2 linked regions of the Homo sapiens genome follow. The protein of the gene in region 2 interacts with the protein of the main gene of each other region in a biochemical or structural test. Each region holds a gene or a part of one and is shown on either strand. Other genes may lie near its edges. The genes, in order: PDGFRB and SYNGAP1.

What was found.
Region 1: the proteins of SYNGAP1 (region 2) and PDGFRB form a complex in vitro, tested with the Homo sapiens proteins (one study listed by BioGRID).

What each region holds. Positions count from the first base shown.
Region 1 is NC_000005.10:150,113,073-150,117,859, forward strand, and holds the end of PDGFRB (platelet-derived growth factor receptor beta isoform 1 precursor), read right to left. Parts: intron 4,779-4,787; coding exon 4,546-4,778; intron 2,875-4,545; coding exon 2,691-2,874; 3' UTR 767-2,690; downstream 1-766. UniProt on the Homo sapiens protein: Tyrosine-protein kinase that acts as a cell-surface receptor for homodimeric PDGFB and PDGFD and for heterodimers formed by PDGFA and PDGFB, and plays an essential role in the regulation of embryonic development, cell proliferation, survival, differentiation, chemotaxis and migration.
Region 2 is NC_000006.12:33,436,785-33,444,064, forward strand, and holds part of SYNGAP1 (ras/Rap GTPase-activating protein SynGAP), read left to right. Parts: intron 1-578; exon of another isoform or gene 579-697; intron 698-883; coding exon 884-1,507; intron 1,508-1,546; exon of another isoform or gene 1,547-1,634; coding exon 1,635-1,779; intron 1,780-1,990; coding exon 1,991-2,135; intron 2,136-3,944; coding exon 3,945-4,181; intron 4,182-4,388; coding exon 4,389-4,590; intron 4,591-4,796; coding exon 4,797-4,975; intron 4,976-5,668; coding exon 5,669-5,710; intron 5,711-6,104; coding exon 6,105-7,176; intron 7,177-7,280. UniProt on the Homo sapiens protein: Major constituent of the PSD essential for postsynaptic signaling. Inhibitory regulator of the Ras-cAMP pathway.

The sequences.
Region 1 (4,787 bases), on a different chromosome or scaffold from region 2:
TGCCCCTGGCCCTGTGTTGCTGCCGGGGTCCCACAGGCCTGGGCTCGGCAGGAGAGCCTATGACTCATGCCGGCCCCACAACCCCTGAGATGCTGCAGCCGTGAGGGGTCTGGGTCCTGCCAGGTCTACACCTCTCTGCCCTCAAAGCCACAGCCTGGTCGCCACCCTATTCCCTCCCCTGTCCTTACCCTGGCCGCAGTTCCCTCCGCTTCCTCTCTTCCTCTTCCTCTTCCTCTTCTCTCTTCTCCACCTTCTCCTCACTTCGTGCTCTCACGCTTTTGGACACTCTGTCTGCCCTTCTCCTACCTGGGGCCTGATCATGACTCACCTGGACCTGGAATCTGGGCTCTAGCAGCTGCCTGTCACAGAGCACGCCGGCCTCAATCCGGGCCTGTGGGCGGAGTGGAGGGGAGGGTGTCCCAGCTGATAGCCAAAGCCAAAGCACATGGTGGAGGCAGTGAGACGCCTCAGCACCAGAGCCTTGGAGCAGCCCTGCAGCCCCACACCCTCCTGCCCGACTCAAGGCCAGGCTCTGTGGAGCCAGAAAAGCCTGCTCGCTTCCCACCTTGGGAAACCAAGCCCAAGGTCTAGGCCCCCCAGCTTCCAGCGAGGGGTGGGAGAGCGAAAATCCCCACTTTACAGATGAATGAAATGAGACTCAGAGCTGAAGGGACCTGTCTGGGGGTCTGCGTCTGGGTGAGCCTCATGTGCCCCACTCCACACTCCCTATGGGCAGGAACCCAAACCCGAGAGAGACCACAAAGTCTGTGAGTGAGAAGCACCAGGTTTAATATTAAAATCTTTCCCTTAAAAAAAAGTACACAGATAGAAAAACTCAACAGCATACAAAATAGCATTTCTGCTGTATAAATGTGAGTTAACGTGAGTCCTAAAAATATTTGTAAACCTAGGTGATTATATCTTTGGTACCGTATTGAGAACCCACTCTCCCTCCTTGGACCAACTCTGGGGATCCCAGGGAAGTAAGGTGCCAACCTGCAATGCAGGGTTGGTGCCCAGAGGGGTTGAGCTTCCTGCACCCCCTTCCCAACCCTCCCCGTGCGGGGGCGTCTTGGCTACAACCCTGACTCCCCTGGCACCTCCAATGCCCACTGGGCTGGGGACAATGAGATGTCACTGCTAGGTCTGGGCAGTGACAAAACCATACCCCCATGGAGCGCTGCCTCAGGGATGGGGCAGCTGGTGGGTGAGGGGCAAACCTCCAAAGCGCCCACCTCTCACATCCTTCTTGGGGTACCCATCTGAAGCTTCTTGTCTTTTACAAGACATAACTGTCCTCACTGTCCATTCTGTCTTCGACGCAGACCTCGGCACAGGTGCTGGAGTGGTGGGCTGCAGGAGGTGATCTCATTTGCCCTCTTTGTCCCTTTTGCCCAGGATACCCCCGGAGGTCATCGTGGGTAGTGAAAGAGGTCCCGTGGTCTTCCCATGTCCCTGGGGCAGCTGCTGGGGGCTTTCCAGGACACCGGCTGTCACTCTAAGTCAAGGCCTGTGCAGCTGTGTTCTTGAGACTTGCTGGGGGCCTGGGGAAGGGGCATGGTTCCTGAGTCCCCAGAGTGTGATGTGTGATCTGGAATCTCCCAGGAGCCCAGCTGACCCCCAGGATGGAAGTTTAGGGTATATGGCCTTGCTTCATCTGGACAAATGTGCAACCACCTGGAATACTCTAGAATGTTAGTGCTGGCAAGGCACTCAGAGTTAATAAGTCCGACTTATTCATTTTTTGAAGGGGAAACTGAGGCCCAGAGAGGGTGAGGGATTCCTCCAAAGCCTCATAGCAGGTCCAATGCAGAGCCAGGGCCATATACTGGCACACACACGTGGCCACTCCACACTGGCACATTTACATTCTCATCACAGATGCGGGGCCCGTCTGGCCTTCTAGACTCTGGTGGATGGATTAAGACTGAGGGTGATAAAGAAAAAGCCCCAGGACTGATGGGCCTGAAGGACAGGGACACAGGCACTTGCTATGGCTGCGTGTGCTCCAAGTGCCCTGGGCAAGGGCTGCAGGCTGGGGGTGTCCTGTACTTGGCTCAGCCTCCAGCATTAATTAGGCTGCCTAATGGCCCCAGACCAGCTCGGGCCAGGGAACGCAGGGACTGGCATCATAGGGAGGAGACTGGCTTTCTTCTGGATGAGGCAACACTGCTCAAGGCTAGGCCCTAGCTCAGCCAGCAGCCAGGGAGGCTAGGGTCTCTTCCCTAGCTCCTGGGTGGATAAAAGTGCGAGGAGAGAGCTATGATTCCTTGAGGGGTAGCTGGCTGAACAGAAAAAAGTTAATTTACCACCTCAGTAACTCCAAGAATCTTCCCAGGGAGGGATTCGGTCTCCCCACCTGTCAGCCAGGGAGAGAATCCTAGATTCTGGGTCATCAAGCCTAACTTTCCCATTTTACATATGGGAAAACTGAGTTCCCTGGGGGAACCCTGGCTCAGAGTCAGTTGGCCTCCCTGGAGGCAGAGGGCTGGTCACGGCCCCTGCAGTTTTCTTGCCTCCTAAGCCAGCCCCAGGGTTTGGGGCACAACACGTCAGGAGCAGAAAGCTTCCAGAAGGGGACAGCTGATAAGGGCAGCCTGGCTGACAGGAAGCCCGGTCAGGCCAGGCCAGGAGATGCTGGGTGCTGGCAGGGGGGGAGCTTCAGGCAGGGCAGGGTAGGGGCCAGCCCCCTACAGGAAGCTATCCTCTGCTTCCGCCCGAGGCGCAGGGCACCCCGAATCCGGCAACTGTTCCAGCTCTGGCTCCGGCTCCACCTGGAGCTCAAGCTGGGGCTCTGGCTCTGGTTCGTCCTGGGGCTCCAGGGGGCTGTCACAGGAGATGGTTGAGGAGGTGTTGACTTCATTCAGGGTGGAGCTAGAGGAAAGAGGCAGTGAGTGAGGGGCTAGGAAGGAGCCCAGGAGGATTCCAGCAGCAGTCATGAAGAGCCTTCGGTGTGTCCACCCCTGCACCGTAGGCTTCACACACTCCGGCTCATTTAACTCTTGTGAAAACTATGCAAGGCCTGCACCGTGAGGAAAGTGTGGCTCAGAGAGGTTATATCACTGCCCCACTTCACACAGCAGGGAAGTGCAGGAGCTGGAACTTCGGAGCAGGGTCAGCTGGCTCCAAAGCTCGTTTCTCACCCACCAGCATCTCCCTCCTCTGCACTCCTAAAGGTGTATGCTATCTCATTTAATCCTTGCAATGACCGCCTAATAGAAGTACTTTTACTGTTTGTATTTTACAGAAGAAGACACTGGCCGGGCGTGGTGGCTCACATCTGTAATCCCAGCACTTTGGGAGGCCGAGGCAGGCGGATCACCTGAGGTCAGGAGGTTGAGACCAGTCTCAACATGGAGAAACCCCAACTCTACTAAAAATACAAAATTAGCCAGGCGTGGTGCTGCATGCCTGTAATTCCAGCTACTCGGGAGGCTGAGGCAGGAGAATTGCTTGAACCTGGGAGGTGGAGGTTGCAGTGAGCCGAGATCGCGCCATTGCACTCCAGCCTGGGCAACAAGAGCGAAACTCCATCTCAAAAATAAATAAATAAATGAATAAAAATAATAAAAAAAAAAAGAAGAGGACACCAATGTTTAGACAGTGAAGCAGCTTGTCTGAGGGCACAAAACAGGGTGAGCATTCACACCTCAAGCTGTGTGAGCGCTGCACTTCACTCCTCTGCACCATCCACTGGGACTCTTGGATGGTTGGCCTCTTCAACAGTTAGAGCAATGAGGGCCTTCGGAGCCTTCTAAGGCCGGTGTGCACTCCTGGCACATATGGAGAAACTGAGGCTCGCAGAGGAGAAGCCTTCCCAGGTCTCAGCGGCTAGTGGCAGAGTTGGGACAGTACCCCAGCCTGGGGCTCCAGCCACTTCACCTTGGGCTGGATCTCGCTTTGGAGGTGGGCGTGGCCTCATGGGGAGCCCTTCTCTCCAGTTAAGGGGAGATCCTGCGTGGACATCAAGTCCACACAACAGCAGGGTCCTCCTATAAAGCCCCCTCTGGGCTGTAACTTCACCACTTCCCAAGGCAAAAGAAAACCACGAATCTCCTTCCCAGTCTGAATTCTGTCCTGAATTCCTTTAGGCACCTCTGACTCCTACAACCAAGCAGGCTCCCTCTGGCCCCAGGGCGTGGTGCTGAAGAACAGAACATAGGCCTCAGGCTGGCCATGAGTAACAGCTGGGGTGCTGGGGATGCTAAGTAGGTTTGCTTCTTCTTTTTGGGGCTAGGACAGGACCTAGAGATAAGAGAGTATAGATAACCTCTGGGGGCTCCCTTAAAGGAAATAGCTACCTTGCAAGTAAGTCCCAGCCCATACTTTTGTTTTTACTAGCCTGCCCTTTCCACCTCAGGGCATCAAAGTTCAAATGAGTTCCATTCTGTCTTCTATTCATTGGTAGGGATAAGTACTTACCCTACGTAACTTACCTCTGAGGCAAACCTGGCAGCGCGCGCGCGCGCGCGCACACACACACACACACACACACACACACACACACTGTGCACAATTTCCTTGGCCCCAGGCCAGGGTGGTTACCTGGCTAGGCTGGGGGAACCCTCCAGTGGGCCCTCGTCAGCAACCTCGGGTTTGGGGTCAGGCAGGGGGATGATATAGTCGTTGTCACCCTCATTGGGCTGCACGGCAGTATAGAGGACGGAGCTGGTGTCCAGGGGAGATCGGAGGCCATGGAACCCAGGCAAGCGGGCCTGGGACCGAAGGATGGCTGGGTGGTCACTCCTCAGAAACTCCTCATCCACCTGCTGGTACTTCTGCTCCCG
Region 2 (7,280 bases):
CAGTAGCTTCCTGGGGCTGCTATAACAAACTGCTACAAACTGGGTCACGTAAAACAACAGAAATTTATTCTCTCACAGTTCAGGAGGCTGGAAGTCCAAAAGCAAGGTATCAGCAGGGCCACGCTCTCTTTGATGCTGTAGCAGGGAATCCTTCCTTGCCTCTTCCTAGCTTCCGGAGGTTGCCAGCAGTCCTTGGCATTCCTGGGCTTATAACTGCATCCGTCTAATTTCTGCCTCCATCTTCATGTAGCTGGCTTCCTTCTGTGTGTCTCTGTATCCTGTATCTCTGTGTCTCCAAATCTCCCTCTCCATATAAAGACACCAGTTTTTATAAGGTGGGTTAAGGGTCCACTCTAATTCAGTATGGCCTCTTTTTTTTGAGATGGAATATCGCTCTTGTTTCCCAGGCTTGGAGTGCAATGGCATGAGCTCAGCTCACTGCAACCTCCGCCTTCCAGGTTCAAGTGATTCTCCTGCCTCAGCCTCCTGAGTAGCTGGGATTACAGGCACGTGCCACTATGCCCAGCTAATTTGTTTTTGTATTTTTATTAGAGACGGGGTTTCACTATGTTGGCCAGGCTGGCTCGAACTCCTGACCTCAGGCAATCCACCCACCTCGGCCTCCCAAAGTGCTGGGATTACAGGAATGAGATACCATGGCTGGCCTCTTCTTAGTTTGATTACATTTGCAGGGATCCTGTTTCCAAATAAGATCACATTCACAGGTTCAGGGTAGACATGAGTTTTGGTGGGATACTATTCAACCCAGTACACCGTCTCACCTTATGATTGCTGTCTGTATCCCACTTTCTTACTGTCTCTCCTCTTTTGGTGTCTCTCTGTCCCTTCCCCCTTTAACATCATGCCCACCCCACCATGCCAGGACAACAGCCGCCGGGTAGACAATGTGCTAAAGCTGTGGATCATAGAGGCCCGGGAGCTGCCCCCCAAGAAGCGGTACTACTGTGAGCTCTGCCTGGATGACATGCTGTATGCACGCACCACCTCCAAGCCCCGCTCTGCCTCTGGGGACACCGTCTTCTGGGGCGAGCACTTCGAGTTTAACAACCTGCCGGCTGTCCGTGCCCTGCGGCTGCATCTGTACCGTGACTCAGACAAAAAGCGCAAGAAGGACAAGGCAGGCTATGTCGGCCTGGTGACTGTGCCAGTGGCCACCCTGGCTGGGCGCCACTTCACAGAGCAGTGGTACCCTGTAACCCTGCCAACAGGCAGTGGGGGATCTGGGGGCATGGGTTCGGGAGGGGGAGGGGGCTCGGGGGGTGGCTCAGGGGGCAAGGGCAAAGGAGGTTGCCCGGCTGTGCGGCTGAAAGCACGTTACCAGACAATGAGCATCTTGCCCATGGAGCTATATAAAGAGTTTGCAGAGTATGTCACCAACCATTATCGGATGCTGTGTGCAGTCTTGGAGCCCGCCCTGAATGTCAAAGGCAAGGAGGAGGTTGCCAGTGCACTAGTTCACATCCTGCAGAGTACAGGCAAGGCCAAGGTGAGTGTTGTGCCCTCAGGGAAAGGTGACTTGGGAATGGGCACTTGCTTGGGGGTTAGTGAGGACAGGGCAAATTCACGAGATTGGGTTGTGCAGAGGCTGACACTTGGATTTTCCTGGGCCTCAGGACTTCCTTTCAGACATGGCCATGTCTGAGGTAGACCGGTTCATGGAACGGGAGCACCTCATATTCCGCGAGAACACGCTTGCCACTAAAGCCATAGAAGAGTATATGAGACTGATTGGTCAGAAATACCTCAAGGATGCCATTGGTATGGCCCACACTCAGGCCCTCTTCTTCCCAAACCTGCCAGATGTCCACCCCAGACCCCAAGTCCACCCTTCCACAGCTTGATACTTCCTAACCCAGAGTCCTAGGACTCCAGCCTCCAACACCTGATTCTGAAATTTCCCCAACCCTGGCCACCCCCTTCCCTGCCCTTGGAAAGTGTGACCACACCCTCTTGTGCCCCCACCCCCCAGGAGAATTCATCCGTGCTCTGTATGAATCTGAGGAAAACTGCGAGGTAGACCCTATCAAGTGCACAGCATCCAGTTTGGCAGAGCACCAGGCCAACCTGCGAATGTGCTGTGAGTTGGCCCTGTGCAAGGTGGTCAACTCCCACTGGTGAGACTGGGAACGCTGGGCTGGGGGGCCAGGGTCGGGGGAATTATGTGTTCATCTGTTCATCTATCTGTCCATCCTCAAAGAGGACTGAGCACCATTTATGGGCAAAGCATTGTTCTAGGCGCTATAGAGCAAACAGGTGAAAGAGGCCTGGTCCCTGCCCTCAGAGGGCCTCCACCAGAATGGGGACAAATTAGAAGAAAAAAAAAAAAAGCCACAGAGCCATAATGGTGTGTAAGTGCTGAGTAAGGGTCCCCCCAACCTCTGTGTGACATAAGGTCAGAGAGAAGGCAGAGCTTTGAGATAAGTGGGGAAGAGGTGCCCCCTTGGGTAGGCTTTGAAGACTGGTTTAGGTTCTGATATATGGACATAGTTGGCAAGAAAGACATTTCAGAAGAAGGCTGTGAGAAAGGCACATGTGTGATGGTGAAAAGGCCCAGGAGTTTTCAGGGGACATTAAAGTAGGTTAGTAGCAATTACATCAGGTTTAGTGGAGCATGTGCCTCATAATGGGGAGTGGCGGGAGAGATGTCTGGGCAGGAAGATTAGCTTTAGAAACTGGAAGGCCTCAAGGAGTCTGAGGTCATTGGTAGGCCTTGGGATGCCATTAAAGGTGTCAGAAATATTGTGATTTAGAAGATTAATCCATAGGCTGGGCACGGTGGCTCACACCTGTAATACCAGCACTTTGGGAGGCTGAGGCGGGCAGACCACCTGAGGTCAGGAGTTTGAGACCAGGCTGACCAACATGGAGAAACCCTGTCTCTACTAAAAATACAAAATTAGCCAGATGTGGTGGCACATGCCTGTAATCCCAGCTATTCGGGAGGCTAAGGCAGGAGAATCACTTGAATCTGGGAGGTGGAGGTTGTAGTGAGCCGAGATCACACGATTGCACTCTAGCCTGGGCAACAAGAGTGAAACTCCATCTCAAAAAAAAAAAATTAATCCATAAGTAGAGTGTATGTAGTAGAGTAGAGGGATGTATGTTGGGGGATGACTGGAATAGAGCCAGCTGGGGGCTCGGAGGCATGAAAGTCAGATCCTGAATCAGAACAGTGACAGAAGTTAGGAAGGAGCTACTGGAAGGACCCTCTCGGGAAAGGATCAGTAGGAATTGTCAGCTTATTGGAAAGGAGGGAGCATGTCTGTGGGGAGTCACGGATGACTCAAGAGGCCATGAGGCTGGTGGTTGGGAGACCGGTGGCCTCATTGACAACCAGGAAAGTCAGGAGGAGGAGCCAGTTGGAGGTGTGGGGGCGATGGTGAGCTCTGCTTTACACCAGCCGAGTTTAAGGTGTCAGTGGGACATTGAAGTGGAACTGGGAGGTGCGGGGAGTGAGCTCTGAGCCATTCCAGGGACTGGGGATCATGCCTGGGGCACCTCCATCCCCATTTCCCTGGAATCCAGAAGAGTTGGGGGGTCCGAGCTCCCTGTACCTCAAGTGACCCTCCATCTCTCTCCCATCTCTGTCTCTCCCTGGTGTCTGTTTTTCTTCTCCTCCTCTCCTTGTCTCTCTCCCACACCCCTCCATCTCTCTCCCACGTGTCTCTCCCCTCACCTTCTCTCCCCCTCCATTTCTCTCTCCCTAATCTGTCTGTTCCCTCTGCCATGGCCCCCTTCTTCAAGCAGCCTCCCATCTTGCTCCTGCGGTCCCTCCTTCCCTGTCTCTCTCACCCCTGTTTCCACACCCTCACCTCCTACCACCCCCCTCAGCATGTTCCCTGGAAGCTGAGGGTCTCTGGGGCTCAGTCCCGGTCTCTCTCTTTCTCTCTCTCTCTCTCTGTCTCCCCGACCCTTCCCCCCAGCGTGTTCCCGAGGGAGCTGAAGGAGGTGTTTGCTTCGTGGCGGCTGCGCTGCGCAGAGCGAGGCCGGGAGGACATCGCAGACAGGCTTATCAGCGCCTCACTCTTCCTGCGCTTCCTCTGCCCAGCGATTATGTCGCCCAGTCTCTTTGGGCTTATGCAGGAGTACCCAGATGAGCAGACCTCACGAACCCTCACCCTCATTGCCAAGGTCATCCAGAACCTGGCCAACTTTTCCAAGTGAGGGAAGCTTCAGGAGTGGGCAGGGCAGGGAGTGGCAGGGCAGGGAGTGGCAGGGCTGGGGGTCGGCAAGAAGGGTCTCCTGAGTCCCCAGAGATCCTGAGATGGGGAGGCTATGATACCTTGTGTGTGTGTGTATGTGTGTGTATGTGTGTGTGTGTGTGTGTGTGTGTGTATGTGACCTTTATCTTCTGCATTCTTGGCTAGGTTTACCTCAAAGGAGGACTTTCTGGGCTTCATGAATGAGTTTCTGGAGCTGGAATGGGGTTCCATGCAGCAGTTTTTGTATGAGATCTCCAATCTGGACACGCTAACCAACAGCAGTAGCTTTGAGGGTTACATCGACTTGGGCCGAGAGCTCTCCACACTGCATGCCCTACTCTGGGAGGTGCTGCCCCAGCTCAGCAAGGTCAGCAGATCCCCTCTTTGCCCTATCCCCAGATGGCTCCAGAGGTTCCTGGAGCCTGAGAAACTACCCTTTGAAGATTTTTTTTCTCCCCTTGTTTCTCGAGGTGTCACCACTACTATCCCAACTCAGGCCCCCTCCACCTGCACCCTCAGAGGCCCTCTTAGAGCTGGGCACTGAGCCCCCAGGTAACAGCCTCACCCTTCCAGGAAGCCCTCCTGAAGCTGGGTCCACTGCCCCGGCTCCTCAACGACATCAGCACAGCTCTGAGGAACCCCAACATCCAAAGGCAGCCAAGCCGCCAGAGTGAGCGGCCCCGGCCTCAGCCTGTGGTACTGCGGGGGCCATCGGCTGAGATGCAGGGCTACATGATGCGGGACCTCAACAGGTGAGCACCCTGGGACAGCCAGGCCTGTGCCCTAGGAGCCCTTCTCCTATTCTAGATACTCCTCACTGGGCCCCACATGCATCTCTCTAGGGCTTGAAAGAAGGGAGGAAAAAGCACCAAGTTCTCAGGGGAGACGATAAGGAGACAGGTACAGTCAGTGGTAGGCTGAGAGCCCTTTACAGCCTGAGGGAGTGAGAGATTTGGAGCTCTAGGAATAGGGCTGAGGCTCCACCAACTCACGGCTTAGTTGTAAGCCTAGAGCATCCCTGCTGCAAGCTCTGATTTGCTGTCCCTCTGCCTGCCCATGCTAGTCCCCAGGCTGAGGTTCAGCCAGCATGTCATGTCAGCCATGTGTCAAAATGTTCAAACATCTCAGTAATAGCTAGTGAATAAGCACTTCCCCCAGCCCCCGACCACAACCCCACAGACCTCCCCATGATCCAGCACTTAGAGCAGTGACAGCAGAAGCCTAGCAGGGCCTGCAGCCTGCTCCAGAGTCCCAGCCTCCATTCTGATAGGTGGTGCCCGTGCTTCATTTGCTGCTCATTATTTTGATGATGGCCCTGCTTTTTCCTCTGCCCGTGTCTTCCTCCATGACACCATACCCATCCCACCATTCCCGCCTCTCCTTTCATTTGTCCACATCTCTCTCCTTCTCTGTCTGTGCTCGCCCCTCTTTCCATCTCTCTCCAGCTCCATCGACCTTCAGTCCTTCATGGCTCGAGGCCTCAACAGGTGAGGGGCTCTCCCCTCCCCCGCCCTCCTCTCCTCTCCTGTCTGTTCCCTCTCCCACTCCACTGGCCTTCGCCCTACTCCTCTCCTCTCCTCCTCCATGGACCTCATCTCCTCCATATGTGCCCAGCCCTGCCCCCATCCCTTCTCTTGCTGCCCCCATCTCCCCTCCTCTAGGCCTCACCCCCTTCCCGGAGGGGCCCTGTCCTTTCCCTTTACTCACCTGTCCCCTCCCATCCTCCCTGCCTGCCCTCTTCAGGGCTGCCACCGCTAGCTCTCAGCCCTTCCCTCTGGGTCCCACTTTTCACCCCAAGGCCTGTGCCAGACCACAGCAAGGTTCAATTGCTAGGAGCCCTGACCTTACCTTCTGCTTGTGTGCCCCCTTCCCTTCTGACAGCTCTATGGACATGGCTCGCCTCCCCTCCCCAACCAAGGAAAAGCCACCCCCACCACCGCCTGGTGGTGGTAAAGACCTGTTCTATGTAAGCCGTCCACCCCTGGCCCGTTCCTCACCAGCATACTGCACGAGCAGCTCGGACATCACAGAGCCAGAGCAGAAGATGCTGAGTGTCAACAAGAGTGTGTCCATGCTGGACTTACAGGGTGATGGGCCTGGTGGCCGCCTCAACAGCAGCAGTGTTTCGAACCTGGCGGCCGTAGGGGACCTGCTGCACTCAAGCCAGGCCTCGCTGACAGCAGCCTTGGGGCTACGGCCTGCGCCTGCCGGACGCCTCTCCCAGGGGAGTGGCTCATCCATCACGGCGGCTGGCATGCGCCTCAGCCAGATGGGTGTCACCACAGACGGTGTCCCTGCCCAGCAACTGCGAATCCCCCTCTCCTTCCAGAACCCTCTCTTCCACATGGCTGCTGATGGGCCAGGTCCCCCAGGCGGCCATGGAGGGGGCGGTGGCCATGGCCCACCTTCCTCCCATCACCACCACCACCACCATCACCACCACCGAGGTGGAGAGCCCCCTGGGGACACCTTTGCCCCATTCCATGGCTATAGCAAGAGTGAGGACCTCTCTTCCGGGGTCCCCAAGCCCCCTGCTGCCTCCATCCTTCATAGCCACAGCTACAGTGATGAGTTTGGACCCTCTGGCACTGACTTCACCCGTCGGCAGCTTTCACTCCAGGACAACCTGCAGCACATGCTGTCCCCTCCCCAGATCACCATTGGTCCCCAGAGGCCAGCCCCCTCAGGGCCTGGAGGTGGGAGCGGTGGGGGCAGCGGTGGGGGTGGCGGGGGCCAGCCGCCTCCATTGCAGAGGGGCAAGTCTCAGCAGTTGACAGTCAGCGCAGCCCAGAAACCCCGGCCATCCAGCGGGAATCTATTGCAGTCCCCAGAGCCAAGTTATGGCCCCGCCCGTCCACGGCAACAGAGCCTCAGCAAGGAGGGCAGCATTGGGGGCAGCGGGGGCAGCGGTGGCGGAGGGGGTGGGGGGCTGAAGCCCTCCATCACCAAGCAGGTAGGTGAAGGCAGGAGGAAGGCGGGCTGGGTCACAACAGGGAGGGAAGAAGGAGATGGGGGGTGGGGTTGAAACAGAGTCTGTGGCCTGAAGTTACAATCTTC